Regions from separate parts of the Homo sapiens genome. Here all the other regions are reported to be linked to region 1. Evidence: microRNA targets listed by miRTarBase, many of them from high-throughput screens and not tested one by one. Region 1 holds a microRNA gene; each other region holds the end of a gene's coding sequence.
Evidence for each region. The annotated mature microRNA hsa-miR-130a-3p reads CAGUGCAAUGUUAAAAGGGCAU and lies in region 1 at 3,914-3,935, opposite strand. An mRNA with a match to its seed (bases 2 to 7 or 8) in the 3' UTR can be bound and repressed. Matches are read on the target gene's strand: a 7mer-m8 pairs with bases 2 to 8, a 7mer-A1 pairs with bases 2 to 7 and ends in A, and an 8mer does both.

Region 2: the mRNA of ACP6 is a reported target of hsa-miR-130a-3p. Seed matches in the 3' UTR shown: 7mer-m8 at 4,251-4,257 and 7mer-A1 at 2,945-2,951.
Region 3: the mRNA of DCBLD2 is a reported target of hsa-miR-130a-3p. Seed matches in the 3' UTR shown: 7mer-m8 at 1,984-1,990.
Region 4: the mRNA of RFXAP is a reported target of hsa-miR-130a-3p. Seed matches in the 3' UTR shown: 7mer-m8 at 5,536-5,542.

What each region holds. Positions count from the first base shown.
Region 1 is chr11:57,637,128-57,645,186 of GRCh38, reverse strand. MIR130A (microRNA 130a) reads right to left here and starts at 3,989; the gene lies at 3,901-3,989. It overlaps MIR130AHG (MIR130A host gene), which reads right to left and starts at 6,811. Exons shown (of 2, transcript NR_186232.1): 1 at 6,515-6,811. YPEL4 (yippee like 4) reads left to right here. Exons shown (of 5, transcript NM_145008.3): 5 at 1-100. RefSeq lists enhancers at 1,418-1,917, 5,192-5,771 and silencers at 6,618-6,677, 6,698-6,887.
Region 2 is chr1:147,640,778-147,648,836 of GRCh38, forward strand. It overlaps ACP6 (acid phosphatase 6, lysophosphatidic), which reads right to left. Exons shown (of 10, transcript NM_016361.5): 9 at 7,469-7,634; 10 at 1,453-6,789. The coding sequence ends at 6,646. Among named protein-coding and RNA genes, the nearest start is that of ACP6, 26 kb to the right of the region's middle. RefSeq lists an enhancer at 577-1,078.
Region 3 is chr3:98,794,667-98,802,725 of GRCh38, forward strand. It overlaps DCBLD2 (discoidin, CUB and LCCL domain containing 2), which reads right to left. Exons shown (of 16, transcript NM_080927.4): 14 at 6,934-6,983; 15 at 5,913-6,050; 16 at 1,275-5,175. The coding sequence ends at 4,706. ST3GAL6 (ST3 beta-galactoside alpha-2,3-sialyltransferase 6) reads left to right here. Exons shown (of 10, transcript NM_001323368.2): 10 at 1-1,186. Among named protein-coding and RNA genes, the nearest start is that of ST3GAL6, 35 kb to the left of the region's middle.
Region 4 is chr13:36,825,389-36,833,447 of GRCh38, reverse strand. It overlaps RFXAP (regulatory factor X associated protein), which reads right to left. Exons shown (of 3, transcript NM_000538.4): 2 at 7,913-8,020; 3 at 4,344-5,805. The coding sequence ends at 5,695. Among named protein-coding and RNA genes, the nearest start is that of RFXAP, 10 kb to the right of the region's middle.

The sequences.
Region 1 (8,059 bases):
GGGCCAGTCTTTCCCGTGGCTGCCACCAGCGAATGAAACTTTTGTATGATACATAAAGTGCTTGAGTCTATTTTTAATAAAAAGGGAAAAAGCAACTTGAGGCAACCTGTCCTCTGACTTTCTTTCCCTGTGCATGTACCCATAAACTGTCCCCGTCACACACACACACCCCCACCCACCCGGGCCTGTCCCTTTATACCACTAGGGGGCAGCAGTTGCCCTGTCTATGGCAAGACTACTGCTTGAGCTTTTACCGGGGAATAAGCGTTCAGGTGAAGTTTTGCCTTAGTAAGAGGGGTGGGTTTTGTTAGCTACTCGGCGAGAGCATCCAAAACCGCTTGTGTCTGCTGGCACCCCTGACAGTAAGTCCATTTTGCCTAGATCCAGGATCGGGCTCTGAAAGAGGCTCATCTCAGAATAAGGATTTTCTTGAGTCCCGTGGCTTTTCAGCCTGGTTCTGTAATGCTCTGGTCAGTTCATGGGCACACTTAAGGCTAAAAGGAAAATCAGTCAGCCAAAGTGCTGCTCTGGCAGTTGATGGGAAGTGAAACAAAATAGCTCAAAAATTAGGCCGGGCGCGATGGCTCACGCCTGCAGTTCCAGCACTTTGAGAGGCCGAGGCTGGTGGATCACCTGATGTCAGGAGTTTGAGACCAGCCTGACCAACATGGCAAAACCCCGTCTCTACTAAAAATTCAAAAATTAGCCAGGCATGATGGCACGTGCCTGTAATCCCAGCTACTTGGGAGGCTGAGGCAGGAGAATCACTTGAACCCAGGAGGCAGAGGTTGCAGTGAGCCAAGATCGTGCTGCTGCACTCCAGCCTGGCGACAGGGCAAGACTCCGTCTCAAAAAAAAAAAAAAAAAAAAAAAAAAAAAGCTCAAAATCGCAACATCAATGCCACCATATGACCCAAGGGACATTTTATTGGCAGTGGTATGAAATCCCTACTGTTGTTGGGTGCCCAACAGTTACAGGGGAGACCATATACATCATAAAGATCATTTTTTGGTAAGCTATAATATTCTTTCCAGATTCATTCATTAATATTCCAAATATTTATAAAGCATCTATTACTTGCCAGGCATTGTGTTAAGCACTAGATGTTAAGCACATGGTGAAGATAAGGCAGCTGTGACCTGACTTCCTGGAGCTTTCTGTCCAGTAGGAGATGCAATAACCAGGAAATCCCAGTAGAAGATGATAATAAGGGATCTAAGCAGGGACGTGGAGGAAGCTTGGGAGCTCATAGGAAAGGAACTCAGCTTAGATGTAAGGAGTCAAGGAAGGCTTCACAAAAGCGATGACTACGATGGCATTTGAAAGATAAGAAGTTAGGTAGGCAAAGGCAAAAGTGATGGAAGTATTTCAGACAGAGTATGTGTCAAGTAACTTAAGTTTAGTTAATTGAAGGAAATAAAAGTTGCTTGTGGGCTGAAAGCAGTGGCTCACGCCTTAATTCCAGCACTTTAGGAAGCCAAGGCTGGAGGCTTGCTTGAGGCCAAACTTTGAGGTTAGCCTGGGCAATATAGCAAGATCTTGTCTCAAAAAAAAAAAAGCCATACCTGCACCTGTAGTCTCGACTACTCAGGAGGCTGAGCAGGAGGATCACTTGAGCCCAGGAGGCTGAGGTTGCAGTGAGCCATGATCACGCCACTGCACTCCAGCCTGGGCTGGAGCAAAACTTTGTCTCCTTAAAAAGTGGGTGAGAGGACATGAAAGGAAAGAGAAGCAGGAGCCATAAACTATTTAGGGAATCTAGATTTAATCCCAATGGTATTAGGGAAATATGGGAAAATTATTGTTTTTTAGAGTGGAGTGGCAGTATCAAATGGCTATTTGTGCCCAGACAAGAGGCTCAAATAGAAGTTTTAATAGACTGGAGAAAGTAAGGAACATATGGTAGGGTGCGGTGGCTCACACCCGTAATCCCAGCACTTTGGGAGGCTGAGGTGGGCGATCACTTGAGGCCAAGAGTTTCAGACCAGCTTGGACAACAAAAATTAGCCAGGCATGGTGGTGCACGCCTGTAATCCCAGCTACTCAGGAGGTTGAGGCAGGAGAATCACTTGAACCTGGTAGGCAGAGGTTGCAGTGGGCCGAGATCGCGCCACTGCACTCCAGCCTGGGCGACAGTGAGATTCTGTCTTAAAAAAAAAAAAAAAAGGGAAATAAAGCTAACTGTACTATCTCAAATACTGTTGTTGTGATCAGAATGGAGAGGCTGTCTGGGCAGGAGAAAGGAGGACTAGAACTGGAAGGCACAGAAGTAAAAGGGCAAGGGAAAAAGGCAAGCCATGGAGAGATGTCCAACATCCCTCAACTAAGGCCTCAGGGGAGTCTGACCCATCTTTCAGTTTCTACATGCCTCATGATGCCAAGATCCCTCTCAGGGTCCAGCAGAGGACCTCAAAACCCTATTCCTCTTGGACCCATTTCTTGCACCAAAGTTTAGGGAAGATTTCTCAAGTCCCAAACTCTGCTGTTGAAAACCAGGCACAAACTAGCTGCCTTCTTCACTTGATCTTAGCCAAAAGACCAGGAATACTAGCTGCCTTCTTAAAGAAGCTCCCCAAATATTCCTCTCATTCAATTTATTTTAACAAGTTTTAATTAAGCCTACTAGGCACTGTGGGAGACAGAGAAGTAAATGGCTGAGTCATTGCTCTCAAATTTTTCTTTCTTTTTTTTTTTTTTTGAGATGGAGTCTCGCTCTGTTGCCCAGGCTGGAGTGCAGTGGCGCAATCTCGGCTCACTTCAACTTCTGCCTCCAAGATTCATTCAAGAGTCTCCTGCCTCAGCCACCCAAGTAGCTGAGACTACAGGCGTGCATTACCACGCCTGGCTAATTTTTGTATTTTTAGTAGAGACGAGGTTTCACCATGTTGGCCAGGCTGGTCTTGAACCCCTGACCTCAGGTGATCCGCCCGCCTCGGCCTCCCAAAGTGTTGGGATTACAGGCGTGAGCCACCGCACCCGGCCTCAATTTCCTTGTAATTGGTCCTGGGAGAATCATTCTGTGGGTTGATTCAAGGGATCCTATTAATCTTTAAGATTAAGTCATGGGCAACGCTGTCCAAATCTTGGATGCCCAGACAGGTGTGCCCTCAAGCAGCATTACCATCAAACACCCCGTGACCAAGAGGGAGTGGTGCTGAGAAAGGTAAGTGGATTCAGGGAAGGAGTGAGGTCTTTCCATGCCTCATGAGCCAGGGAAGGAGCTGTAGGTATGGGATGCCAGCAGCACACAGGTCCTTTTCTTTGGGGAGCAATCCTCTCGAGTTAACCCCCTTTCCTTTCTGGTGCATTCCTTTTTTTCTCAAGGAGGCCTACTCTGTACCTAATAGTGATTCTCCTAATCTTTTTCCACTCACTCTCCATTCCGGGCTGAGTCTGGGAATGCTTATCCTTCTTAGCCTAAGGAGTTGCCACCACTTCTGGTCCTTAAAGGTTTGAGGCTTTGGAAGATATCCTCATACAACCAGCAGATGGCATCAAAACCTTCCACCCCTCAGCTCAGGAAATCTCCCAGTTTGAAGAACCTATTCAGATCTCTCCAGATGGGTCTACAAAAAGATGAGTGAGCTGTCAAGACTTAACACAGGGTTGTATCTAGGCTTTGCAACCTAAGAGCTACACAATCTTAGCCAAACTGTTTAAACCTTTCTGACCCTCAGTTTTTCATCCATAAAATGGGGCTGTTACCTCCCAGAAGTTATTAGGTTTCACAGTAACGGAGGCAGTGTCTATCACAAGCACTGCATACAGAAGTAGTTCCATAAATGAGAGCTATTAGTATAACTAACAAGTGAGGCTACCCAGATTCCCACCAGGGTAGCTGACTGGTGCCCAGATGGGAGAGGAATTGCAATGCTGAGGAGGCAGCCAGCGCTGGGTAGCACTACACGGCCAATGCCCTTTTAACATTGCACTGCTAGTGACAGGTGCAGACAGTAGCACAATGTGAAAAGAGCTCTGGCCAGCAGCAGAGGCATGCCGGCCCTGCCTCCTCACTCCTTCTCCCAGTCCCTGGCCCACTCAGCTCACGGGCTCCCTCTGCCCCTTCTTTGCTTCAATACAGCTTTTTTCCCTTTTATTCCATTCTTAGTGTTCATTCTATTTTTTCACCACTCTTCCTTTTGCCGCCTTCTTCACCAACCCCCTGACCCCCAGCACAGAGACCACCTTTTTCTTGGAGGTTTTGGCATGGGAGGACAGGACCCACTAAAGCAGCTGCAGGGATACTTCGGGCTTGATGCTCAGTCCTCAAAGAAAACGGCTATTAGCAATCCCCAAAGTCTGGAGGTCACTCGTATGAGGCTGTGTTCATCTGGATTTGCATTTCCGCTAGCTTACCTTCTAGAGAGGAGCTTGCTGCCCAAGACTACAGAACCCTCTACTCTTCTCTAAGTTTCCATCTCCTTTTAAATTTAGATAAAGCAGAGCTCTAGGCCTCAAGGCAACACTCTCAGATGACCTTCCAGGACCAGAGAGGTGGGAGCCTGTAGTCACAGCTCCCCACGCAGTAGAGAGAAGCTTCCAGGCGGGGAGGTGAAAGCTGCTGGTGAAGCCCCACCCCTGCATCTCCTTTTGGAGGTCCTGAAAGCACTTTGCAGATTCAGCATTAAAATGGTGAGGGTGATTCGCTCACAGTTACTGAGAGTTAGGGATAGGCTTTCACTGGCAGTGGGATTCACATCTGAGTTATTTCCTGTCTTATCCAGGGACCCTTGGTTGGGGAGTCTTCAAGCTCATCCTAGCACTTCCCCATCCTATCCAACCCTAAGGGGGCTTAAATACAGGACAAACAGTCCCCGGAAGATTAACACCCAAAGCCAGAAAGCTGCCCTGGAAGGACACCTGGATATCTGGAGGCTCAGACCCAGGCAGGCTCTATTGTGGCACATTCCAGCTAGGGCCACAGCCCCGGAGCCCAGCTCCAGTTCTGACCCAGTGAACTTTGGGCAGCCCAGAGAAACAGAGGCTGGAGGGTGATTCCTCCAGTGCCCCGATCAACGAAGGGGAGATGCCTTCTTCCCTAATCCACAGCCACCGTAAGGAATAGAGGACAGAATTCCAGTTGGGAGCTCTTCCTCTGGGCTTCCCTCTAGCCTCGTCCCACCCCCTCAGGAAGCAGGAGACGTTCCCTCCCGCTCTCCCCGGCAGAGTTTGTTCCCGTAATCTGCAAACATGGGGCCCTGCCCTACAGTTTTAATGGGCGGAAACCAAGACCCCTCGAGGGTCAGTGACCTCTCTGCTCTGGGGTTGGGCAAACCAGGCCCAGCTGGGAACTGGATCACACCAACAGGGGGCAGAGGGGCAAAGATAAGGCTGCACAGCAAGCTTCAGGGAGGCCAGGGGAAGATTCTTCCCCAAGAAGTTTCCAGGTCTCTCCTTAGGGAGTGCAGGGAGAAAGGGCCAAGAGCCCCTCAGCTCTCACACACCCAACTCATTCCTGAGGAGCAGGCCCAGCGACTCACCAGCCAGCAGGACCCCTCCCCCACCTTGGGCCCAGGAGCCAGCCCCCAGCTCCTTCCAGAAGCGAGTGTAGAGACCGAGGAGGAAATGGGGGAGGGGAGGCCCCGGCTCAAGTTCTCTCCTCTCCCCCTCCTCATTGGCCACCATCTTCCGGCCCCTGCCCCCAGAGCAGCAGGGGATGGGGCCCAGCCTGTGAAAGGGAGAGAAAGGGCAGGTGGGGGGTTAGCTGGAGCAGCAGGGGCAGGGGGCTGGCCCCAACTGTCTCCTCCCACCCCCTCCTCGCAGCCATGGCGACGGGAGGAGGAGACCAGGAGGGTCCTGAAAGCCATGTTCTGTGAATGGGATGAGAGAGGCAGCTGGGAAGTGGGGGGTGAGGGGCGCTCTCCTTCAACACCCAACTGTGCTCCCCCCGAACACACACACCTCGAGGCTGGACCACACAGGCGCACGTACACACCACACACACACACACACACACACACAAACTCTCAGCCATACTTGCTGCACAACTCAGCCCTCATTACACACCCAAACAACAAGAACTGGAGTGTGAGCGCACGCCCCCCACACACACACATCCCCGCACCCCTCAACACCCCACAACTATCAGCTCGAAAACCAGCCTCACACCCCCACACCGCCCCTGGCTCACCCTACAACTTCTGGAGGTGCAGAACTCCCTGCCCTGCTCCAGCCCTTCGGCCCCCGGTCCCCCTCGGAACACTCCACGCCCTCGCACACAACCCAGGTGGAGACAGATGGCCCAGCTCGGCCGTGCCCAGCGGAGCCCCCCATCCCTACCCCACCACGCCCCCCACTGGAAAATGACAGTGAGGCCACCTCAGAAAGACACGCCTGGTGCTTCCCAGTTACAGTGTTTCCAAAGGAAAAAATAGAAAAGATGCCCACGAGTGGAGAATGAGGAGGGAAAAAGGAAGACGAGAGAAAGAGCCCAGACCGTCCCCCTCCCTTCCCCAAGAGAGAATAAAACCGAAAATCGGTGTCGTTACCCTTCGGGAAGCTCTCGATACCTACACATTGCTCTTCGTTAGGATCCTCTGCCTGCCACCTCCTTCTTCCCGGGCTCTTTCTCTGCCCTTCCCTCCCTCTTGGCTCCCCTCCCTGGCCTCGCTCCCCCTCGCTCACGCCCTCTCGCACCCCGCCAGCCCCTCTCCCGGGCCGGGCTTGGATCCCCAGCGGCCGCCCCGCCACCCGCCGGCCGGGACCGAGGTTGCGAGGCCGGTGGGCCGCGGAGACCCTCTCCTCTGCCGATCTCGCTCTTCCCCCCTCGCCCCCTTTCTCCTTCCACACTCCCTGCCGTCCATCTTGAATACTTGGGATTCTTGAATGGAGTGAGCAGGATCCGCTCCCCCAGGCTCCCATTGGCTGTGGGTTAACCCTTTTGAAACGAGATCCTCCCTCCCATTGGCTGCCAGGCTCCCCTCTTCTCCCCCAACCCCCATCCCCTCCGCCTCCCAACAGTCCGCGAGGTCAGGGCGCTCCCGGAGCCCCCTCCCCTGGCTTCTCACCTCAACAACCCCCGCACCAGGACGCCCCTCTCCCCGCTCTTTCCGTCACGCCCCGCACAGGGCTGCAGGTGAAGGCAGATCCAGTTCCCGCCAAATGCGGCCCCAAGGTGGGGCTGGCAGAAACCCTGTTCCCAGATGCCCCTCGTGCTGGATTTGGAGACCTTGGAAGATACAAGGGGTGCAATTTCCTGCCCGTCTCCAACCCCTCCTTGACCAGAAGTACTTCTGCAACAGGGGATCCACTCAGCCTTTCAGCCTCACCCAAGGCGGTGGGAGAGCGTTCCTGAACGCCCGCGCTTCTTGGGCTGGCCAGGAAGAGGGCAGCTCTAGAAAGAAGATCTGGGGCTCTTCACCGAAGCTAATTCCCCGAGTGCCGCAGGGCAGGCCTGACCCGATCAGGAATGTGCAGCATCTGGAGCTCCGCTCCGTCAAAAACATCCCCTCAGACCAGCCCTGCCCCGCCTGGGCCAACGTGCTGTGCGCCCACAAGGGGCTCTGAGGTGGGGGAGCCCAGAGAGGAAGGCGGCAGCAAGGACGAGGGCGATATGTCAGGCCTTGGAGTAAGGTCCGGGGTTTTAGGCCTAGATCTGCCATTAAGATGCAGGGCGAGGCTGGGCGCGGTGGCTAACGCCTATAATCCAAGCACTTTGAGAGGCTGAGGTGGGAGGATTGCTTGAGCCCAGGAGTTCCAGACCACCCTGGGCAACACACTGAGACTCTATCTCTACGAAAAATAAAAAAATTAGCTGGGCGTCGTGGTGTGGCCTATGGTCCCAGCTACTAGGGAGGCTGAGATGGGAGGATCGCTTAAGCCTAGGAGTTCCAGGTTGCAGTGAGCTATGATCGGGCTCGGTGGCTCATGCCTGTAATCCTAGCATTCTGGGAGGCCGAGGCGGGTGGATCACCTGAGTTCAGGAGTTAAAGACCAGCCTGGCCAACATGGTGAAAACCCGTCTCTACTAAAAATACCAAAATTATCTGGGCGTGGTGGTGCTTGCCTGTAATCCCAGTTACTTGGGAGACTGAGGCAGGAGAATCGCTTGAACCCAGG
Region 2 (8,059 bases), not on the chromosome of region 1:
GCCAAACGGAGAGCGGAATCCTGAGAAGACCAGCTTTTTACTGGGGAAAGTGTTTTTCAGTTCTCCCCAGCCAGCCTTAGACAGGGGTCAGGTTTCTAGAGGCTGGCAGGGTGGACTGGGAAGGGCCGGGCTGCAAAGTCCCCTTGGCCACTAGAGGGCAGGGTCTGAAGAGAGCACACAGCCATCTCCCCGGGGAATTCCCCACCCAGCAGAAGAGACTCATCGCTGCCTAGCAGCCCCAGGACACGCTCTAGCCCAAAGCCGAAGAATGATCCCTTCCTGGCATGTTGTAGACAGGGTAGGTGCCCTTAGCCCACCCCTCCCCCCACAGCCCGCCCAGCCTCCTCTGCAGGTAGATGGCGGTGCCCTAGAGGATTCCAGCTGAGGAAAAGGGGTGCCAGGTGCCACTGACAAAGACCTGAGTTTCCTACAATGAAAATAAACAGGTCAGCACTCCAGGTCCCGGTGCTTCGAGGACTAGGGGAGGGTGGGACGGGAACTCTCTCCTCCTCCCTCTTCAGTTGGGCCCTTCAGGGTTTCTGTCCCCTTGCTGCAGTTTTTAACGATCCACGTGGAACTAACTGTTACAGGGGAATAGGCACATGGCAGTGAAGGGTCTTGTCTAATGACAGTCCTTCATCCCAGGGCCTGCCAGAGCCAAGAGCTCTGTAAGATAAGCCACGAGGCCCTCGGGAAGAGCTATCAGGGGAGCCGCAGATGAAGTCGGCCTTCCCTGGCAAGCCTGGCTCTCCTCCGTCCTGGGAAGCCTTTCACTTTGCCATACACGGGTGAGAGCCTCCTGTGGGAATTCTTTAAACCTCAACAGCACTCTGAGGCCCCTTAGAGAAAGGAGTCAAGGCAGGGACAGGTTAGGAATTTATGAAGAGCTTTTCACACCCTATTTTCCATCCTCAGGACAAATCATCAGGTAGATAAACATTAACTTCCCCGCTTTATAGTTGGGAAAATGGAAGCTCAGAGAAATTAAGTGACATGCCCACAGTCACACAACTGGTGAGTGAGGGAGCCAGGGTTCTGTACAAATCTCCTGCACACACAGGCACAGTGCCCCGGGAAGGGCAGGCGGAGGCGGGGCGCTGCCTGCAGAGGAGCATCCCCAAAGGCTCCCTTGGCTTGCGAAACCTACCACAGTTAAGAATCTCGTGGGAAGTGAGATGAAAGAGAAAAGGGAAAATAAGAATACTTGAAGGCACTTATACGTTTCCTTAATTGATTCTCACAACAACCCTAATTAGTACGTATCATTATGCCCATTTTTACATGAGAGGAAAAACAGGCTCAGAAACACCCGTCCAAGCGTTGCAAGGAAATAAATACGCTGTCAGAATTTGAACCCAGCGAAAGCCTTGGTGTTTTCCTTTACTCCATGCTTCCCCCTGGTGGTGAGTGGAAGGAGAGTGCATAGAAGCCACCTGGGTGCCAACAGAAGAGTTAAGTCAGCGTTCTGAACTCATTTATTCATTCGGTAAATCTTTGCTGAGGTCCACTTTGTACAGTCTCTGCACTTGGTTCTAGAAATACAATAAAAGACAAGACAAACAACCTTCTATTGAAGGACAAACAGAAACACGGGAGGCCTAGAGATAATTGGATTACACAGGAAAAGGGAGTGTGGGTCAGGGGTCAGGTGATGGAAAAATGTGTGCCAAGGTAAAGAGGCCAGAGGAGTGCGATTTCCTTTTTTTTTAAACATACTATAGGTCTGGCTAGGGAGATATGTGAGGGGTGAAGCTGGAGAGGTATGCAGGGGCCAGGTCTCAGGGGGTGATGGAAAGCAAGTGAGGGTATGGCCCATTAGGAAGCCACTGTGGTAACCTAGGAGGGTGGCCTTGGGCCCCGGAGAGAAGTGACAGAGGGGATATGTCATTCAAATGTCCAAGTGTCTGAGCACTGGCATGCACTAGGCACTATTCCAGGTGCTGGGGACACATCAGTGAACAAGAGGAAATCTGCCTTCATGGAGCTTCCATTTTAGTCAGGGAAATAAGCATATAGATACACAAATATGTAATATCCGGCACTGATAAATATCACAGGGCGGGGGAAAGACAAGACAAGTGTATTCATTTGCTAGGGCCTGCCGTAGCAAAGTATCACAGACTAGGTGGCTTAAACAACAGAAATTTATTTCCTCACAGTGCTAGAGGCTAGAAGTCCAAGATCGTGGTGTCAGCAGCATTGGTTTCTTCTGAGGCCTCTCTCCTTGACTTGCAGATAGTCATCTTCCCTCTGTGTCTGTGTCCTCATTTCCTCTTCTTATAAGGATTCCAGTCATATTGGATTACAGCCTACCCATATGACCTCATTTACTTTACCTCTTAAAAGGCCCTATCTCCAAATACATTACACCTGAGGTACATTCAGTCCTCAACATCATTGATAGGTTCTTGGAAACTGTAGCTTTAAGTAAAACAACATATTAGAGAACCAACTGTTTTGCTCATCAGTGTTACAAGGCAACGATGTTGAACAAAACACAATGTTATTCAAGGACCTGCTATATGTCCTTTCACTGAAAGCCGACATTTCCAAGAGCCTATTGATAGCATCAAGTGAGGACTTACTGTACTAGGGGTTAAGATGTCAACATATGGATTTAGGGGGGACACAATTCAGCCCATGACAGAAGGTGGCAGAGTATACCTAAGGCAGGAGGTAGAAGGAGGGCAAGGAGGGCCTCTCTGAGATGACAATGAGCTGAGATCTGAATGAAAAGAGGGAGCTAGCCACGCAAATGTCTAGGAGAGCATTCCAGGCACAGGAACAACAGGTGCTCACCCCGAGGTGAGGACATGGCTCAGGACTACTTGGCATACTCCATCTTCAACGATAGTAAGAATGGGATGGGATGATGGGAAAAAGGGAGATGTTAGTCAAAATGTACAAAGTTTCAGTTAAACAGTAGAAATAAGTTTTTGTGATCTAGTGCACAGCATGGTGACCATAGTTCATAACAGTATACTGTTGTCTTAGTCCATTTTGTGTTGCTATAACAGAATACCACAGATGGGGTAATTTGTAATGAACAGAAATTTATTATCTCACAGTTCTGGAAGCTGAGAAGTCCAAGATCAAGGCACCAGAAGGTTAGGGCCTGGTCTCTCTGCTTCAAAGATGGTGCCTGTTGCTGCATCCTCCAGAGAGGAGGAACACTTTGTCATCATATGGCAGAAAAGCAAAAGAGAAGGAACCCATTCCTGCAAGCCCTTTTTATAATGGCATTAATCCATTAAACATCCCCATTAGGCTCCACCTCCCAGTAACATTGTACTGGGCACTAAGTGTCAACATCAAATTTAGAGAAGACAAAAGCACTCAAACCACAGCGACTGTACACCTGAAAACTACTAAAGAGTATATCTGAAACATTTTCACCACAAGAAAGTGATGAGTAGATGAAGTGATGAATATGTTAATTAGCTTGATTTAATCATTCCCTCATGCATACATATATCAAAACATCACATTGTACTCCATAAATATACGCAATTATTATCTGTCAACTAAAAAGAAAGTAAAAAGTTTTTATTACAAAAAAGAAGAAGAATGGTAAGATGGCGAGTATGGCTGGGGTGCAGTGAGATGTCATAGGACCGTGAGGGCATTATGACTGGCCCTTAGTTTGAGATGAGAAACCAATGGGGAATTTAGAGCAGAAGAGTGGCACGATCTTACTTTGTTTTAAAAGCAACACTGTGTTGAGAATAGATGGGCAGAGAAGGGAAGGGCAGAAACAGGAAGACTAGTTACGAGGCCTTTACAATAATCCAGGTAAAAGATGACACTGGGACTAAGACAGTAGCAATGGAAGTATTGGGACATGGTCAATTCTGGATATAGTTTGAAGAGAGATACAACAGGAGTTACTGATGTAGTAGAGGTAGGATATGAGAAAAAGAGGGGAGTCAAGGGCAGTTCTAAAGTTCTTGGCCAAAGCAACAGGGTGAATGGTGGTGTCATTTACCTAGATGGGAAAGCCTGTGGAAGGAGTAAGTTTGAAAAGGCACGGAAATTGAGAGTTTATTGTGGACAATGGGAAGTTTGATACCTATTGTATATCTTAAACATCCAAATAGAGACATTGATTAGACTGTTGGAAATGAGACTGGGATTCACAGGGAAAGGTCTAGGTTGAAGGTATAAATTTAGGAGACATTGTGTAAATATTTAAAACTGGAAATTCTTTTTTTTTTTTTGAGATGTTATTTCTCTCTTGTTGCCCAGGCTGGAGTGCAATGGCACGATCTTGGCTCAGCACAACCTCTGCCTCCTAGGTTGAAGTGATTCTCCTGCCTCAGCCTCCCAAGTAGCTGGGATTACAGGCACATTGTACTCCATAAATAGACACATACAGCCTTCCGAGTAGCTGGGATTACATCACATTGTACTCCATAAATATAATAATTTTATAAAATTATAATAATTTTATAAAAATATAATAATTTTTGTATTTTTAGTAGAGGCAGGTTTAGTGGAGACAGGGTTTTGCCATGTTGGCCAGGCTGGTCTCGAACTCCTGGCCTCAGGTGATCTGCCTGCCTTGGCCTCCCAAAGTGCTGGGATTACAGGCGTGAGCCACCGCGCCCGGCCTCAAACTGGAAATTCTTGAGATCACCTAGTGGGTGAGTGTAGGGGAAAAGGTGGAAAAAAGGTCCAAGGAGTAAGCCCTGGGACACCCCAACACTTACGGATTAGAAAAAGGTAGATTCAGCAGGAACAAAGTCGAGAAATTGGAGGAAAACCAAGAAAGCATTTGTCGAAGCCAGTGAAGGAAATAGTCTAGGAATACTGATGAGAAGCTTAGTAAGAAGAATGAAAACTGGCTATTGGATTCACCACACAAAGGCTATTGATGATTTTGACAAGAGCAGTTTCCATGGAGTGGTGGGGGTGAATACTTAATTGTAGCTGGTTCATGAGAGAACTGGAAGGGAAGAATTAGAGGTAGCAACTCTTTTGAGGAGTTCTGCTATGAAGGGGAGAAGGAAAAGAGAACAGCAGTTCAAAGATGCAGAGAAAAAAGTTTAAGAGATTTTACAGCATATTTGTATTGCTAATAGAATAATTGGTCAGGAAAAAAATTGACAATCCAGAAAAAAGACACTAGGAGTCAATGTAAAGCTAGAGGGTTGGGCTTTGATAGGAATAGTGTTGGTTCATTCTTAGTAAGAGGGAGGAAGGAAGGCTATAAAAGCACCAATGCAACTGGGTTAGCAGATTTGGTGGTTGGGTGTTGGGGGATGTGGAAGTTTTCTTCTGATCTCTTTTAGATTCTTAGTAAAATAGGAAATACAGTAACCAGCAGACTGAGGATGGGAAGGGGATGCTGAAGATTGAGGATAAAGATATGTGAATAGATTAAAGAAATAAACAGGTAGTATTGATAAAACTTAACTGATTAGACATAGGAAAATGTGAGACAAAGAAAACAAAGACAGATTTCTGATTTGGCAACTGGGTGGAGAGTGGAGGTGTCTTTCATTCAGATAGGGAAGTGTGTGGGAGAAGCAGGTCTGGGAGGAGGGGGGTTTGATTCTAACATGGAAAGTTTTGTGCCAGTGAAATCCAAGTGGATAAAAGTGTCTGAAGCTCAGAAGAGAAACCTGAGCTTGAGATATCTCAGCTCCCTGATCTGGAAGTTGTCAATATTAAGATAGTAGGAAGTGGAGAGGCTTTTGTGGTTGCTGTTTTCTCTGAGAGGTAAAGGGACTGGTGGTTTGAAATCAGAGAAGGGTTGAAATAGATTCTGGAGAAGAACAGCAACATTGACAAGGAGATAGGGGGATCATCAGGTACTCTTAGGGGGCACAGTTAAAGGTGGAGCTCTTATGTTGAGTAGTTCCAGCCTTACCATTGCAGAGCCCTGGGGCCCACATTTGTTTCTGGAACTAAAACCACCAGGGGCCCAGTGTCCTTCCTGCTTCTTCCTGCTGAGCCTCCACATCAGGGTTCCATCTCACCACCCAGCAACGTTCCCTGACCTTGAAGCCTATCCTTTATCTAAACGCAACACGCTTTCATCCTTGCTTTCCTGGTTAACTCCTACCCACCTTTCTCTACTCAGATCAGGCCAGGACTTTTTCAGAAGCCTTCCTTGACTGTTCCCCACATCCCCTGCCATGTGAGCAGGAAGTTTCTTCTCTATACCCAAATAGCCCCTCAAATACCTATTACAGCATAAAACATACAGCACTGTATCACTGATTTACTCGGCTGCCTCTCCCACTGGACTGCAACAACTTGAGGGCAGAGTGTTTTCACCTTTATAATGATCACTACTTAGTAGGTAGCTCAATACATGTGAAATTAATATAGGAGAAAAGAACTAAAGTCCAAAACCGACACAATTCTACAGGGTCATGATGTCCCCAGCCCGTGTCACACAAAGATGCTTCTAACCTTAGAAACCAACTCACAAAATAGAGAAATATCCTTTTGGTCTCAATATTATACCCCTTTTCCGTTCAGGAAGAAATCTTAGTAAACCCACAGAAAGGAAATATCCTTACATTATATTAAAGTACATTACCCCTTGCTCTCTCCTCTTCCCAAACACACAAAGCAGGAGGCATTGTATAAAGGCACTTTATTTTAAAATCAACACATCCTGCTTTTATAAATCAGTTACTCTTCATTTCCAACTTCCATCACCTGAGTTTGAGAGCAGAGTGCGTGGTATTTTTCTGGGCTTAAGGTATAAACTGACATGGCATTCAAGAACATGTCCAGCGGGCAGAGCCCATCAGGGCAACCTCTCGGCACCTGCTCCTGCAGAAGAAACATAACTCAGCAGGTCCGCCGAGGAACCTGTCCTTCTGCTATTTCCAGCTAAGCCCAGAGATCTGAGAGGCTCTGATCCATGTGGTATACATGTGCATACATATTACAGACAGGAAGGCCCCACTACCCGGTGAGCTTCCAGAATAAAAGCACTATGCTCTGCTTGTAAAAGTCACTCAAAAAGTGTTGAATTGACTGGGAAGAAAGAGTCGAGTTACATCCCCGAGCTGGGAGAACCAACAGGCTCATCCCTGGGGCGTGCTCTGGCCTCTGCCCTGGACCCCAGCCCTGATGAAGCAGCCAACACCACGGGTGCTAACAGCAGCACACATCACCTCCCAAAGATACCACCAACAATCTCCAAAACAGGTCTCACAGCCAGGAGGCGACATCCTGACAGGGACGCTCAGGAGAAGAGGAGGGGGACCCTGTTCCTAGGAGTCTGTAACAGAACTGGGATAAGGCTCAAGCCCCATCCTGCCACCATCTGTCAAGTTCTGCCTGACCCCTGGGCCATAGCCAGGAGTTGCCCTATAGGATTCAGAGAGCTGACTGTGCCAAGAGAGACTCCACTGGGCCTGAGGAGGGAGACTTGGTGCTAACTCAGGTAGGTGGGTTTTGCAGGAGGGTGCCTCACCACCACCCAACCCCACCTCAGGGGTATTACCTTCCCGTGGTAATAGAGCTGCACAAACCACTCCTTAGATTCCAGGTGCTGGTAAAGTTCCATGGTCAGGTCAACAGCAAACGGTGGCCATTTGTGGTCAAAAATCCCCAGGGTCATTAAGAGCGGTATGAAGGTCACATCATGAGCCGCATAGAGATACAGCTTTCTGCAAGAGGAAACAGCTCTCCACAATTCTCTGCCTCAGGACTCTGAAGGTCAGGATGTGGCCTGCCTCCTTTACGTAAGACACACTTGCCTCAGAAACTAGGTGACATCTAGAAATCAGCTGAGCCTGGTATAAAAGTCCTTTGCAGTAGATCGTGGGAAGAACCCTTGTTCCCACTCCCCGTGTCTTCATGAGGAGGGTCCCCGCCAGAGAAATTCTCCTGGCCTCCTCCTTGCCACCTACTCACTCCTCCCTGGTGAGTTTCAAAGAAGAAACTGAGCGTGTGTGGCTTAGACCCTACCTCTCTTCTCTCTTTGGGTCCTGCCAGCCTACATGAATGCCCTTCCTACTCTCAGCCATGGGATGAGTTTAGTAGGGCTCCTTGTTGGGGAAGCTTGAAGTTTTGGGGTATTAAGTTTATTTCA
Region 3 (8,059 bases), not on the chromosome of region 1:
AGGCAGCTGGATTGCCTGAACTCAGGAGTTCAAGACCAGCCTGGCCAACATGGTGAAACCTCATCTCTACTAAAATACAAAATAATTAGCTGGGCGTGGTGGTATGCGCTGTAGTCCCAGGTACTCGGGAGGCTGAGGCACGAGAATTGCTTGAGCCCGGGAGGCAGAGGTTGCAGTGAGCCAAGATCGCGCCACTGCACTTCAGCCTGGGTGACAGAGTGAGGCTGTCTTCTAAAAAATATAAAAAGTGAAGTTGGGATTTTTGGATTTAAATGGTACAAAAAGAATATCTCATTTTCCCATGATTAAAGCTAATCTTCAGATGGAAAGCTTGCCTGGCTACCTAGGGTGCACCAGAGAATCTGATCCAATGCAAGCCAGTCAATCCTACAAATGTGGTGAGCTAGTCTTCCTTCCTATATTTTAATAAATGTAACCAAAGGCCATCTGGAGGTAGGGGAATGAGAGGTGAAGAAACAGAAAAATAGAGGTTATAAGGATGGAACTAAAAGTTGTCAGAAGAGGTATGAGCTGAAGAAAGAATTACTCTCTTTTGACCAATAAATACAATTGGGAAACACTGGAAAACCATGGCTTGATTACTGACAACCAACCTGCCTCTCTAAAGAGGGTGTATAAAGGGTGAAATACATTAGATTTGGCTCAGAAACAGAATGCGGTACTTATAAAGCAGAATAAAGGGGAGAACAGTAGTAGTTGATCTAACCCAGATTAGACATGAATACCAGCATATGTTTGCAGAGTCCCACAGTTTTGATTCCTCTTATAACTTTTTGAGGTGCAAAAGGAAGGTACCAGAACTGGAATCACATGTAATCAATCAGTGTGATTTTCCCCTCATACCACACAGCCATAGGCTGCAGTGTGGCTGCTGAAGTTCAATTGATATAAAGTAAATCAGGCTTCAAAAAGAATGGTGCTGTGGGTACACAAGGACATAAAGATGGGAACGATAGACACTGAGGACTGCGGCGGGGGGAGCGAGGGGAGCGGGGAGGGCAAGGGCTGAAAGACTATGTATTGGGTACTATGCTCACAACCTGGATGATGGGATCATTCATACCACAAACCTCAGTATCACACAATATACCCATGTAACAACCTGCACTCTGCACATGTACCCTTAGAATCTAAAATAAAAGTTGAAATTATTTTTTTAAAAAAAGGATGGCGCTGGTCATAGAAAAAGTCAAAGTAAACTAACAGTGTCATTTTCAAATGTTGCTGGAAGCACAATATTGGCCATAAATTAGTGAGGTTAAAATAGAAGAATCTGGCATTTTATAGTATAAGGAAAAGCTACAAACCTCAAGGTTGTTTTATTTAAACCAAATAATCTGAGCAAGACATATATACATTAAAAACAAATGAACACATTAAAATTTCACTATTTTACAATCTAAATTCTAGCAACATATACAAATACTGAGTGACTACAGTACATGCCGAGGTAAGATAAGTACATTCTGGGAGAATATCACTGACGCTCAAACCATTTTTATTTCCAATATGTATTTCAATACATGTTTGTTTCCACTTTTCCCAGTGCCACACACACACACACAAAAACAAAACAAAACAAAAAAAAACAGTCACAAGTTGGATTACATTAGAATTGGTGCCACAGTTGACTTTAAAAGCATTTTAATAACCACCCAACTCTTAGATTTTGCAGTTTAGGGACTTCAAGTTCAGAACCAAAAAGCAGAGAATCGTTTCATGTGACATGATGTTTCTATAGACCTCTTGCTCTCTAGGTGACAATGCAGAGCCAGGGCAAAGGTGTTTAAGCTTTGTCACCTTCCACAGCTTTGTGGCCACATTCATATTTAGATAAGCTCGGACTCTGCTCCCCTCTTCTGGAGATGGGGAGAGGCAAGTGTGTATGTGTTGTCATACTTACTGCATTAATTCTTCACTCGAACCGTTTACATCAGCGAATAAACCCATTGTTCAATGCAAAGTGCAAACAGTGAAACATGAACTTAAATAAACTGGACTAGACCCATCACATCCAACAGGATCTATTTAGATTTACAGCATTTAATAAAGTATAAGTCAGAATTCACAATATCTTAAACTGTGCTGTTTCCTAAGATCAAGTAACAGCCAAGTCAGTGTAATTTTATGAAACCTGTAATGGCCACATTTGTTGTGTCTCCGATGTATTTCTATAATTGCATTAACAGGAAAAAACTTAATCCAATATACCAGTGACTTTGAGTCTTAAATGTTGCAAGCAAAGGATAAAAATTCAAGGGAATTTTGTCAGATATGGTTACTTTCACATTTTCAGTTGTTACTTGATTGTCTCCAAAGCCGTATATGTATCAGACATATAAATGTAGTAAAAAAAAAAAAAAAAAAAATAGAAAACCTCTACTATAAAAACCAATGAACTAAAAAGAAGTATAAAGCAGAAAAACCATTTGAATCAGGCTCAGCTCTTCATCTGGAAAGTAAAGTTTATATAAAAGTAGTAAAAACTAGATATTTTATAAAAATTATTGGTAGTTCAAGGATAGCACAGTGGCAATATGAATCGAGTCTTAAAATATGCATCATTTCAGAAAACACTTGCCCCTCTTAAAAAAAAAAAAACCCAAAACTAAACAACAACAACAAAAACCTCCAGGAAAAAACAATCAGGTATACACAATTAACACAAGAATAGCAAACTTCTTTGGGAAAATGAAATAGTTACCAAAAACATCTCTCTTAAAGCTTCAAACAGGTATATTACTTGAGGAAAAGTATATTCTCTGTGTACTAAGGATGAATTAAAAAATCAACTGGTTTGCTCTCTTCCCACCTGAAAAGGGATGACTGCATTAATATATGTGCTTTCCACATCCATATATGTTTTAATAAAAGTCTACCATCTATGTCTTTTGTTTCAAACATTTTGAAACAAAATATGTATTGATTCTTCAATGAATGAAATCACGCCTCAAAGTTTGGAGAAGGAAAAGCCAGTGAAAATAAGGCCAAAAAACCATACCACAAAAGGACAGGAAGCCTGCAGAAATAAACAGTTCTCTTTCTGAAGCGATGTTTTAGAATACTGATATAATTCATGGAAACAAGAAAACAAATACTGTTCATCTTTATTCAAATTGAGTGAATTCTGGCAACATCATAATCTGGTGGCTCAGGCCAACAGAAGTGACTAGAACTTTATGGAAAAGTACTGTTCAACATTAAATCTACAAACAAAGGTTTATGGAAGAGGGAATGTCAAATTTATGTATTTTTATCATATGGTGAGCTGCTCATGTCGTCTTGACAGTCTGAAGGCTTTAAAAGATGGTTTTACATTGTTAGCTAATAAATTACAGATGATTTCTATTTTGCCATGTCTAAAACTAGCTCTGGGCAGGTATGAACAAGTGGTGACATGGAAGCTGCCAGGAGGTATCAAAAACAAGGCATGAATATTCATTTGCTAGTAAGCTATAATGTCTGTTCCCTAGGTGACATATAGGACTACTCAAACCTCTTACCACACAAAGTGCACGATCACGCAGTCCTGAAAAATACACGTTAGGTTTATATTTTGTGTAACAGTTTATGGAAAACTGAAATGAAAAATTATTTTTTCTGACTAAAAATATAAAATACCTTGAGACTCAAGAAAAATGTATATGTTTGTGAATGTATAAAACCAAAAAGGACAAATTCTGGTTACTTTTTAAAGAGGTAATTTATATTACTTCTGAGTGAATAATTTTGCCTTTCACTGTGATAAATATAAGTGGGTCATGTTTACAGTATTCCCTTAGAAGCCTTCAACTTTTCATAACTCTCCTAGGAAAAATCCCATTGCAAATAAAGTTGGGGGTGGGAGAAGAATCTCCTTTAAAGCTTTCAAATCATAAAGTTGTTCCTGTTTACACATTGAGGAGCATACTTAAAGGACATGAAGGGATCTGAATTCATGAGACTAAGGCAAGCATCACTCATCAGAAATACTCAAACATTTTATAAACACAAGAATGGGGCAAGACACCAAAGGGCCTCAAGTGGAACACGCAAGGATGAGACCAGGCCATATACTGTGAAGCATTAAAGCTCTAAAGAGTGTCACAAAGTGAAAAAGCAATCCCCCTGCTCATTACAAGTCAGAAAATCCCAGCTACAGATCTTAAGATGGATAAGTGGATATGGCTGCAATAAAAACAATGCTTATATCACTAATTATTAAAAAAAATCCAGAAAAGAATATAGGAATAGAAGAGGAAATCATGATAGTACCCATCTTTCACAAACAGACTAGAATTTCAAGCCATTAGGTATTTCAAGAACAGTACCGTGCGTTATTGCCAGTCAGGCTTACAGAGCCATCTCGAGTTCATTAATGTACCTGCAGCATTGGTAATAAATACTCTGTGATTTTTAATTTCTCTGAAGTGCATTATAGGGAGCTTTTTCTGTATTAAAAATAGTGTTCTACAGTAGTATCAAACAGGACATTTGAAATTTAACAGGCGAGCAGTAACTGTGCCACCATAACACCTTAAAGCAAGATGGCAAGATTAGTAGTTTCCTGTACCTCAGTCACCACATTTTCCCCAACCACTTCAGTGACAGTTATGTAATACATTCTATATATTACTACCACTAATAATTAAAAAAAAAAGGCCATGTGCTTTAAAACGATGCTTTGTAAAAAGCAGCATCATCTTCAAAGGATTTCTTTAAAAACATCACATTCCCCATCCCTTCCTGCTCCTGATACTTCTTGTGTGCTCTGTGGCACCTGGTACACCAATTCGTCTGGGGCAGGTAGACCTGGCTTCCCAGCTTTCGGGGTATCATACTGGGCCTGGGCTGAGGAGCAGCTGTCAGTCCTGGAGAGAAGTGTATTGTAAGTTCCCACTAGTGGGGGAGGTTGGTTCCCCGTAGCCTTGAAAGTGGATGTGGAGGGCTGACCAACTGAAGTTGTGGGGTGCCCTGACATGTCCATGATGATTGGGGTTGCATACTCAGGCCCCGTAATTGGGAGTGGTTCAGCATAGGCATGATAAACTTCCTGCCCTGGTGAGTTGTAAGGATCTAGGTCTGCATAGCCTGCTTCTTTTCCTTCTTCTGGTTTAAAGGTAGATCTTTGATGAAGTGTACCAACAATTCCTCCTACCAGTGGCTGAGCATACTCTGTGGATATCACAAAACAACAGAAAAGTCATTTTACTAGTAAAGAGATTGCATAATTTAGGGTGGCAGCTGCAGATTATACTAAAAGCAAACATTCTTTAGGATACTTTTGTTGCCATCAATACTTAATCTGTAAGAACTTTGAAAATTAAAATTAAACATACTGTCTAGTACTTCTCATAGTAATAATATACCAGAAAGTCTCATTCATGTAATTTTGCATATAGAATTTTCACATATGTTCTTTAGATTTACAGACAACATATTTCTTTACTGAATATTTCCTTTCTGAATTATTTTCAGAATATTTCATTGGAAAAGAAACATTCAGTTACTGGAATAAATATTAATCTTGAAAAATAATTTCAGAGATTTTTTTCAAATATTAGGAAATGTTTAAAATAAGTATGTACTAGGCTAAGAGGATAAACACTGTAAGGCTTCTTCTGTCTTTCCCGCTCTCCTCTCAACATCTCGGGTCTCCCCACAAGCCTCAGTTAACATACATAATGCCCAGAGTCTTTAGAAATCAATGTCCCAACTTTACAGACAGAATATCCAAGATACAGAAATGACTCTCTGAAGAGTCACCTTTTAAAAAAGTGGTTCTACCTTTAGGAAACAATTCATTTCTTAAACATGAAAGGGATCAAAGAACTGTAAATCCCAAAGCACTTTATAGCAAGCCTAAGCAGTTTCTCCCTCTGCCTGGTACCAGAAGGCTGCAACATAGTTACCTGCAGAGTCAGCCTGCAGCACTGTGGTGACTTCTCTTGGACTCAGGTGATTAACTTCGCTGCTGCTATAGCGAACTGGGGTTTCCTCATGGTCCACTGCTTTTGCAGGAAGAAACTGCTTCATTCCTTTCCACCAACCTTCATTGTGACGGCAAGCCAAAGAGACCATTAAATAAAAACCTGTATCTCAAACAGTAGTATCAAGAGAAAAATCCTGTTGCATTTAAGCCATTTCTATAACAAATATCTCTACAAACTTGCCTTTATAATCCAACTTTTTTTTTTTTTTTTGCTGTGATAGACTATCCAGCACCAAGCAGTACATGGTAGAAATCTCTATCAAACACATGCAGGCAAATCACTGTTAGTATAGTACAGCCAGATACAGTATCTATTTTAGGGGTGGCCTTAATTACATTTTTCCCAAAAAATATTTTCCAAGATCTACCCTGGGGCACTAGCTGCCCTTTTCTATCCTAGCCACAGCAGTGAACTCTCCTGGCTCCTAAGAGCTGATCCAGTAGTGAGACTGGGAAGTGAGAAACTGGTAGGGGGGCCCCTTTGGTGTCACTTGCAGCAATTCAGAAGATGACAACTCATCATGGGAGACCTCCCGATTCCTAAACTGCTGGACTCCACTTGGTGAATAACCATGGCAGAGGACAAACACACACTGTGTCCTGGAGACCACAGTCTTTTGTTTCTTACTCAGTGTTCACGTGGGCCACAGAAAGCCGGTCTCCTCATGAGAAACAGATACACAGGACAAACTACACAAGTTTTCCAGAAGAAAAAGAACAGAGCTTGTTTTAAGAAATTTGTACTTTTCATTTCATTACTTAGGAATTACAAGAGACTTTGCAGAAGGGTAAAAATGGTGAGAACTGAAGAGTAATGCCATTGTTCTAACAGTGTCGGGGAGTTCACCTGGGCCAGAGAATGACTCTTTTTTCACTACTGCCCCCTGTAGGGGAGCGACATCCCTCTGATAGAAATGAGATGCAAAGACCACGTGAGTTACCTGCCCGGTCCCAGTAAGGTAAGTCATAGGTGCCTTCAGTTTTTTTCTTTCTGGAAAAATACAGAAGAGAAGTTAGCAAACAGAGTAAATTCACTGGTAAGCCTGCTCCCCCTACCCCATGACAGGCCTTGGTATGTGATATTCCCCTTCCTGTGTCCAAGTGTTCTCATTGTTCAATTCCCACCTATGAGTGAGAACATGCGGTGTTTGGTTTTTTGTCCTTGGGACAGTTTGCTGAGAATGATGGTTTCCAGCTTCATCCATGTCACTACAAAGGACAGGAACTCATCATTTTTTATGGCTGCATAGTATTCCATGGTGTATATGTGCCACATTTTCTTAATTCAATCTATCATTCATGGACATTTGGGTTGGTTCCAAGTCTTTGCTATTTTGAATAGTGCTGCAATGAACATACGTGTGCATGTGTCTCTATAGCAGCATGATTTATAATCCTTTGGGTATATACCCAGTAATGGGATGGCTGGGTCAAATGGTATTTCTAGTTCTAGATCCCTGAGGAATCACCACACTGTCTTCCACAATGGTTGAACTAGGTTACAGTCCTACCAACAGTGTAAAAATGTTCCTATTTCTCCACATCCTCTCCAGCACCTGTTGTTTCCTGACTTTTTAATGATCACCATTCTAACTGGTGTGAGATGGTATCTCATTGTGGTTTTGATTTGCATTTCTCTGATGGCCAGTGATGATGAGCATTTTTTCATGTGTTTGTTGGCTGCATAAATGTCTTCTTTTGAGAAGTGTCTGTTCATATCTTTCGCCCACTTGTTGATGGGGTTGTTTTTTTTTCTTGTAAATTTGTTTGAGTTCTTTGTAGATTCTGGATATTAGCCCTTTGTCAGATGAGTAGATTGCAAAAATTTTCTCCCATTCTGTAGGTTGCCTGCTCACTTTGATGGTAGTTTCTTTTGCTGTGCAGAAGCTGTTTAGTTTAATTAGATCCCATTTGTCAATTCTGGCTTTTGTTGCCATTGTTTTTGGTGTTTTAGACATGAAGTCCATGTCTGTGTCCTGAATGGTATTGCCTAGGTTTTCTTCTAGGGTTTTTATGGTTTTAGGTCTAACATTTAAGTCTTTAATCCATCTTGAATTAATTTTTGTA
Region 4 (8,059 bases), not on the chromosome of region 1:
CTTATGGCCCCATGATGGTGCATCCACTGCCGAAATGCAAGGGGCGTGTCCAGATTGCACTGGCCCGTGACGAAAGCTTCCAACATTGTGCAGTAAGTCATTTGGAATCAGAGGGCCTGGATTTAAGTCCAATAGCTGTGCAGTCTTGAGCAAGTAATTTAACCTTGAAAAGTCTGCTTCTGTGTTTATAAACTAATAATTGTGCATGCATTACGGGATTGTTGTGGAGAGCAAGCAAATATGCATAATTGTTTTGAAAACTATAAAGTGCTAGAAAATTGGCAGATTTTGTCATATTGTTTTTAGATTATACTTTCTTGGTGTATCTCCAGCAGGGAAGTATATATTTTGGACCCCAGGATGGCCTGTAAACTCCAAGGCCTGTAAATCTCACTACACATAAGTGTTACATATATGTAAATAAAGATTCACAAGTAAAACACTTTTTGAAATTTTTTAGAAAAATAGAAAGCAAAGGAGCAATTACTGTAAGCACAAGTTGTCTATACATCTCAATTTCTTTCCTTTTTTTTTTTTGAGACACAGTTTCACTTTGTTGCCCAGGCTGAAGTGCAGTGGTGCAATCTCAGCTCACTGCAACCTCCGCCTCCTGGGTTCAAGTGATTCTTGTGCCTCAGCCTCCTGAGTAGCTGGGATTACAGGCACGTGCCACCATGCTCGGCTACTTTTTTTTTTTTTTTTTTGTATTATTAGTAGAGAAGGGGTTTCACCATGTTGGCCAGGCTGGTCTCAAATTCCTGACCTCAGGTGATCCACCTCCTCAGCTTCCCAAAATGCTGGGATTACAGGCATGAGCCACCATGCCTAGACATCAATTTCTAACAAGATTTTGTTTTAGTTTGTAGTAAGAACAACATTTCTGAAAAGGTCATATATGCATGGTAAGAATTCAAGCAATATAAAAGATCATTTCAACAAAAGATTGTCTCCTGACTACTGAACCCTCTCATCCCACACCACCAGTGCCCCAATTTTCCTTTGTGGCAGTTTGGATTAGCTACACCTGAAGCAAAACATTATTCCATAGTTTTCTACTTTTTTTGTCTTGCCATTTTTAAAATCGTTTTCGCAATGCTCCAGAGCTCTGTTTGATGAGCTGAAGCAAAATGCTTTGAGCTTCTCCTTGAGGTAGGTCCTCCCTGAGTGACTTTCCTGCCATTAAATCCTAAAGGCTTATTTAATTGCTCCAAATCAACTCTTCAAGCAGAAGCCTAATGGTCTAGCTGCTGAGCATTTCTAAGGGCCAAGTGTATTGATAAATATTATAGAATAAAAATTGGGGCTGTCACTAATTGAGTGTAATGAGTACTGCTCACTTCCTGAGTCCATAGATTCCTAGCTGAAATACCTTGTGCTCTCATTCTTCCGACACTTACACTGCAATGTCATAGGAACCTCCAGTCTCCATTAGCCTCATTTCTTCTCTGCTCAGCTCAAACCTATTCCTAAAAGTCCTTTCAGAAGCATCCTAACGTCCTCATCCCTTACTTATTGCACCAAATGAACCCTACATCAAGCCTATCATCTATGTTTCCTACTAATACAGATGGCTGAGCCCAGTGAAACAGCATCACATAACTGCAGATTGCCATTACAAATTCCTGGTTTCCAGTAGGCCAAGTCCTTAATGCCACTTGTCAATCCTTTTCCCTATAGTATTATTTAGAAAACAGATTTGGCTGGCTGTCACAATAACAACAACCGTGGTTATACCATCATCATAACTGGTAGAAACAATACACTCCATTTCTTTTTCCCATAGTAGTTGAAAGGGCATCCCATGCTAGTGTGGTGGCTCAGTTCCTTGAGGACATCCAGGGACACAGATTCCTTCTATTTTGTTACTCCGCCTTCCCCAGTGAATGACCCTCATTTGGCCCATAGATGCTCCATTGCTTTGTCCACATTCCAGGCAGCAGGATGGAGGAAGAGAGGAAATGGGCTGCTTGCCCCGGGCTGCCATCTGGAAGTTGCACTTATCACCTGTGCTTACATCCCACTGGCCAGAATTTACTCATATGGCCACACTCAACTGCAGGGGTAGGTGAGAAAGTCTTAAAAAAATAAAATCAACTATTAAAAAAATTGAAGTGTAAAATATATACTGAAAAGTACAAAAATCATAAATGCATAGCGTGTTGAACTTTCACTAATAGAACACACATGCCTAACCAGCAACTGGAAAAGCAAGCATCTCTGGAACACCAGAAACCTCCTCAAGCCTCTAGACTGTATCCTGCTCCCACGGGTGTTTTATCCTGCTTCTCTGTTCTGACAGCATAGTTTCACCTGCTTTTCTACTTTATGTAAATAGAATCGTACACACGTCATTTGTATCTGGATTCCTTGGCATGGTATGTGAGAATCAGCTATATGGTTATATATGGCTATGTTCCCAACCCAAAATTCTACTATGAAAGAAGGGGAAAAATGCTCTCAGAGGACTACTAGTAGGCTACTAGCTACTAGGCATCTCTCTTTTTTATTTTTTTGAGGCAGTGTCTCACTCTGTTGTCCAGACTGGAGTACAGTAGTGCAATCGCAGCTCACTGCAGCCTCTGCCTCCTGGGTTCAAGCAATTCTCCTGCCTCAGCCACCCAAGTAGCTGAGATTACAGGCATGCGCCACCATGCCTGGCTAATTTTTGTATTTTCAGTAGAGACAGGGTTTCACCACGTTAACCAGGCTGGTCTCAAACTCCTGACCTCAAGCGATCTGCCTGTCTAGGCCTCTCAAAGTGCTGGGACAACTTTGGTGAGCAATCGTCCCAGCCGCTACCAGCCGTCTCTTTCACTGACTTTAATGTATCTTCCTAATATTTTCTTTCTAAAGCCCCTTACTACTTCCTGCACCCCACATTATCATATGACTGATTTTCCAGCTTTGCTGGAAAATGGAAGCTGTGAATTCCTTTATGTTCTTATTACTACAAATAGACATGTATATTTATCATATCTCCTCAAATGAACTGGCACAGAATCACTTGTGCCATATTTTGTTAGAGCAGTCATAAGCCTGCCCAGATTCAAAAGGATAGAAAAGAAAATTTATATCTTAATGGACAACAATGCATAAGAGCATGTGGGGTGAGAGATACTGTGCAGACATCTTTGAAAAATATGGTCTGCCACACCTAGCTTGAAAGCATTTGCACAGCTATTTTAAATCACAGTAATCATATACAGAACTGTGAGAAATAATAATGGCTTCAAGCCATCAAATTTTCAGGTGATTTGTTTTGCAACAATAAATAGCAGCTAGGTGTATCAGCTACCTACTGTCACAAAAATGCTGCATCTAACACACTACCCCAAAACTCTGTGGCTTACAATCATAATTTATAATTGCTCACAAATCTACAGGTCAATTTGGTGGCTCTGCAAATTTGGGCCAGGCTTGGCTGATCTCAGTTGGTTATCAAGTGTATCTGCGGTCAGCTGGCAGGCTGGCTGGACAGCTTATCTAGCATAGCCTCATTCACATGTGTGGCTGGTTGAGAGCTATTAGCTGGTACAATACAGGTGACTGGACTATGTGTCTCATTATCCAGGAAGCTAGGCTGGGCTTCTTACCATGGCAGCAGGGTAGGACTCTAAAAAAACAAGTGGAAATGTTCAAAACTCTCAGAAGTCTATTCAGAGATGGCATCTTGTTATGTCCTCTGCATTTTACTGGCAAAAACAAGTCACAAGGCCAGTCCTCTAGATTTAAGGGGTAGGTAAATAAACTCAAGCTCAATGGGTAGGATGAGCAGCAAAGTCACACGGCAAATGGCATGAGTAAACACAAGGATAAAAAACTGGAGACACACTGCAATACATCTACCCAAAATAAACCTTATTGCTTTATTGATCATTTTATAAGGTAAAAAAATGTCTAATGTGGCAGACAAAAATTAAATTGTGTTGAATATTGTCCTACTATTCTTATCCAAATTCATGAACAGGCAGCTACCTTATCCTAAAAAATATCCTTGGTAAAGATTCTGAGCCTCTCAGTTATCTATCCCACGTCTGACAATTACTCATCATCACAAAGTTCTTACAAATATTTAAATTCAGTCCCTTTTCATTCAGCTCTCACTGGGCTATTATTTTCCCTCCTTTCCCATTTCCATCCATTTCCCATTTCCCTCCTTTCCCATTATTCCATCTAAAGAAGCATAAGCTAATGTTTTCCACCATAAAGGGTAACTTAAGCTTCAAAAAAACTCTCAACATCGTAAGTATGAGAATAAACTAACAGTTAATAACAGACAGTAGATGAATTCCTCTGCATCTAGTAAGAATAAACTAAAGAACAGAATAAAGAAATCAGCTAACTCAAAGGTCAACAACTGGACTTTAATGAATTAATTTTGTTAAAAGTGTTTTGAACAGATATGCAAGTAAAAACACACACATTAAGAAATGAACAAAAACGTTCTTGCTCTCCATAAGTACTTCTTAGAACAGCCATGATTAAGTCGAACTTTATATATAGAGTTTAAAAAACAAGTAACAAATTTTTGTAGAGTTAAACTTGAGACACATACATTTATATCCTAATATTGGATATACTCTCTTGACATTTAATTTGTTATTCCTATTGGTAGGTTTGCCTTTTTAAAGTTTTAAAGTTTTCCTAGGAGAAAGTATAAGAAAAAGGTATCCAGATTACTTATCATTTTTGAACATTACTTAGGAATAACAGTTTTCAGATAGCTCAATTGCGAAAAACAATGACAAAATACTGGAGTGTTAGTTTTATTTTCAGGATCACCTTTTTGAAAAGGATCTTTTTCATTTTGTTTAATAAAAAATAAGTATAAGAAAAATAATTTTGTCTTGGCATTGGTGGGCTGAGATCTATACTGTTCACAAATTCAACAAACAAGAAATGTCTGCTTTAAGAGATCAGCACTAACAGGTAACATCAAAGAGAGAAGCCAACTGTAGGAGACACATCCCAGTGTGCTTAGTTAATCCGTCAGGTTTTACTAACACACCTCTGAAAAGAGATGCACATCCTAAATTCACAGATATTAAACAATAATCACTTTCCTTACGTCTATATAAAATGTGCTTACCTCTTTGACAGCTTCAGTCTTAACTGCAAAGAAAGGTTATTAAGAGAACCCAATTATAGGTGCCCCAACTACATGTTAGCACCACAAAATAGCCATCAACATTTCTTAGGAGTGTTATTGGCACTGCGGGTGAGACAATCTTTAGTATGTGGGACTACCCCTGACACTGCAGAACATTTAGCATTCCTGGCCACTCACTAAAAGCCAGTGGTTTTCAAGGTCACTATGACAATCAAATTGACCCTTGATGAGAACCACTGAGCTAGATGAGTCAAGATTAATATCTATTAACTTTATGACTTCCACAGAAAGTAACTGCTTCATTACCTTCAGTAACAATGACTGAAGAGGAATATATTTTTTAAAAAACATTATAATTAAATGTTATTTGGAAAGATAAGCTGACTTCTTCAAACTCACAGTAATCTGAAAGATTAGATGCACAAAGTGCAATACTTACTTATCCCCAAATGCACACATACATTTACAGGAAAATGTTTATGTTCTACAGGCATAGATTATTACCCCATTTATGTCTGGTAAAAAAATATGCTCATCTATTACAATAAGATAAAAAACCATGTAGATGTTCTTGGTAAGTTCCCTCACATTGATGTTCCTGGAAACTGCTGTTGTCTTTGCTCCAAAACTTGCTGATTTAATAGCTGTTGCTGTTTCTGTAAAAATTGCACTACTTCTGGACTTCTTAGTAACGACTTAGAAAGAAAAGAAAAAAATTATTAATAGCATTAATCTATGTCATTAGACTGTTTTCATGCTAATTACTCTGATGTGTCCCTACATATGATACAATATGTTCACAAGAATATGCCTGAATCAAAAGCACTTTTACATCGGATGCACTGCAACTAAGCTGCAAACTAAAAATAATGTGATGTCACACATCAAAATACTAAAACCTAAAAATAACGGGTGAAGTCTGTTATTGGTGACTTTGTGTAAAAAGGAAACACCTTCTCTAATATGCCAGCAAATATACTCTCTTGAAATATGTAAGAACAAAGAGCTAAAAGTAGCACTGACCCAGGATTATAGCAAGAAAAAAAATGGAGATGAAAGGGGGCCACATGTGAAAATAGCAGCTAAATGCCAGTTTGTACATACATACAAACTAGTGCTAGAAGTCAAGTTTCTCATTAGGCAACTAAGTCTTCATAAAGAAATTAAAAATTGTGTGTATAGGTGTGTATATATATATATGTACATATATATCGGTATATACCAAAATTTCAGGAAAAAATATAACTGCTCTAAAACATCCAATACCTTTTTGTACACTCATCACTTTAAAATATAGTTGTAATAATATAACAAATATAACAGACTATGATTAACATATTATTATTAGAGACAGGGTCTCACTCTGTTCCCCACGCTGGAGTGCAGTGGCGTGAGCATAGCTCACTGCAGTCTTGAACTCCTCGGCTCAAGCAATCATCCTGCCACAGTCTCCTGTAATAGGTTTTTATAATAAAATACTTACATAAATTTATAGAGAAAAAAATCTTTGGCCCCAATAAGCTGCAAAAAGATAAACTGAATAAAGTGAACATACTATCATTAAATACTGACTTTCAGATTATATGTATTATATCTTAGTACATTTTCTATTTATTAAACAGTTTTATTTAAAAATCATCTTAGCTGTTATGACACTGTTGGACATTTAGGCTGTTTCAACTACCTTTTTTACTATTTATGAGAAATATATTCCTGGCAATACCTTTATGTTTAACTCTATCCATATTTAGGATTTACATTCTGTAAATGTCTTCATATTAAATGTGATGTCTGAGTTGAAAGGGATGACTCCTGGTACATATTGCCCAACTGCTTTCTGAAAGTGCCATACCAATATATAATGCCATTAACTACTTGAGAATGTCCATTTCATGAAAGTCTCCACATCACTGCATCATTGTGCGTAATCGTTTAAATAATTTTCACTTTTTGTTTATTTTTACTGATATTGAATACCTTTCCATATCATTTAATGGTATTCTGCCTTTTTTTTCTGTTTCTATCTTTTGCAATGTATTGAAGCCAAAGGTTTTCCTCATCAAATTACAGGAATTTTTGTAATAAACTTTCTTTGCAGTTAAGACTGAAGCTGTCAAAGAGGCAAACATATTTTATATATATGTAAGGAAACTGATCATGTTTAATGATTTATAGGGTGCTCTGTTGCCTAGGCTGGAGTACAGTGGTATGATCATAGCTCATTGCAGCCTCGAATTCCTGGACTCAAGCAATCCTCCTGTTTCAGCCTCTTGAGTAGCCAGGACTACAGCTACATACCATCACACTCGGCTAATTTTTAAATTTTTTTGTAGATGGGGTCTCGCTACGTTGCCCAGAATGGTCTCAAATTCCCAGCCTCAAGTGATCCTCCCACCTGGCCTCCCAAAGTGCTAGGATTACAGGCATGAACCACAATGCCCAACCAGGAATATTTTATGTGATAAAATACCAGACACGTTAACCATAGTCTTTTATATTTGTTGTACATATTTTTGCTCTAGGTCATTGTGCAATTTGCCACCATTTTTGACTATAGCATTCATTTTTATGTAGTCAAGTTTATAATCTTTTCTCTGTGATTTTGTCTATATAAGCTAAAAAAAATCTCATTACATTTTTGAGGTAAAGTTCCGATTCTTTTTTTAAAATTTTGACTTATTAGGAATTTATTTTGATGTATAGTGTGATGTCATGAGCTAAAAATCTCAAAAATCTCAATTGTTCCATTTATAACAAACGTTTGTTAACACATTTATAACTGATTTACAAACAGATATTTACCAGTCTTTTTTGATTTAACACTTGTTCTAAAAGAGTAGGTCTTGCAGGACGATCCCCAAAAGATCCTGTTCTTTGTTTAACAATGGAGAGTATGTTATCTGCACTTTCCTGGGATAAATGATAAAAATGCAAATAGATAAACAGTTA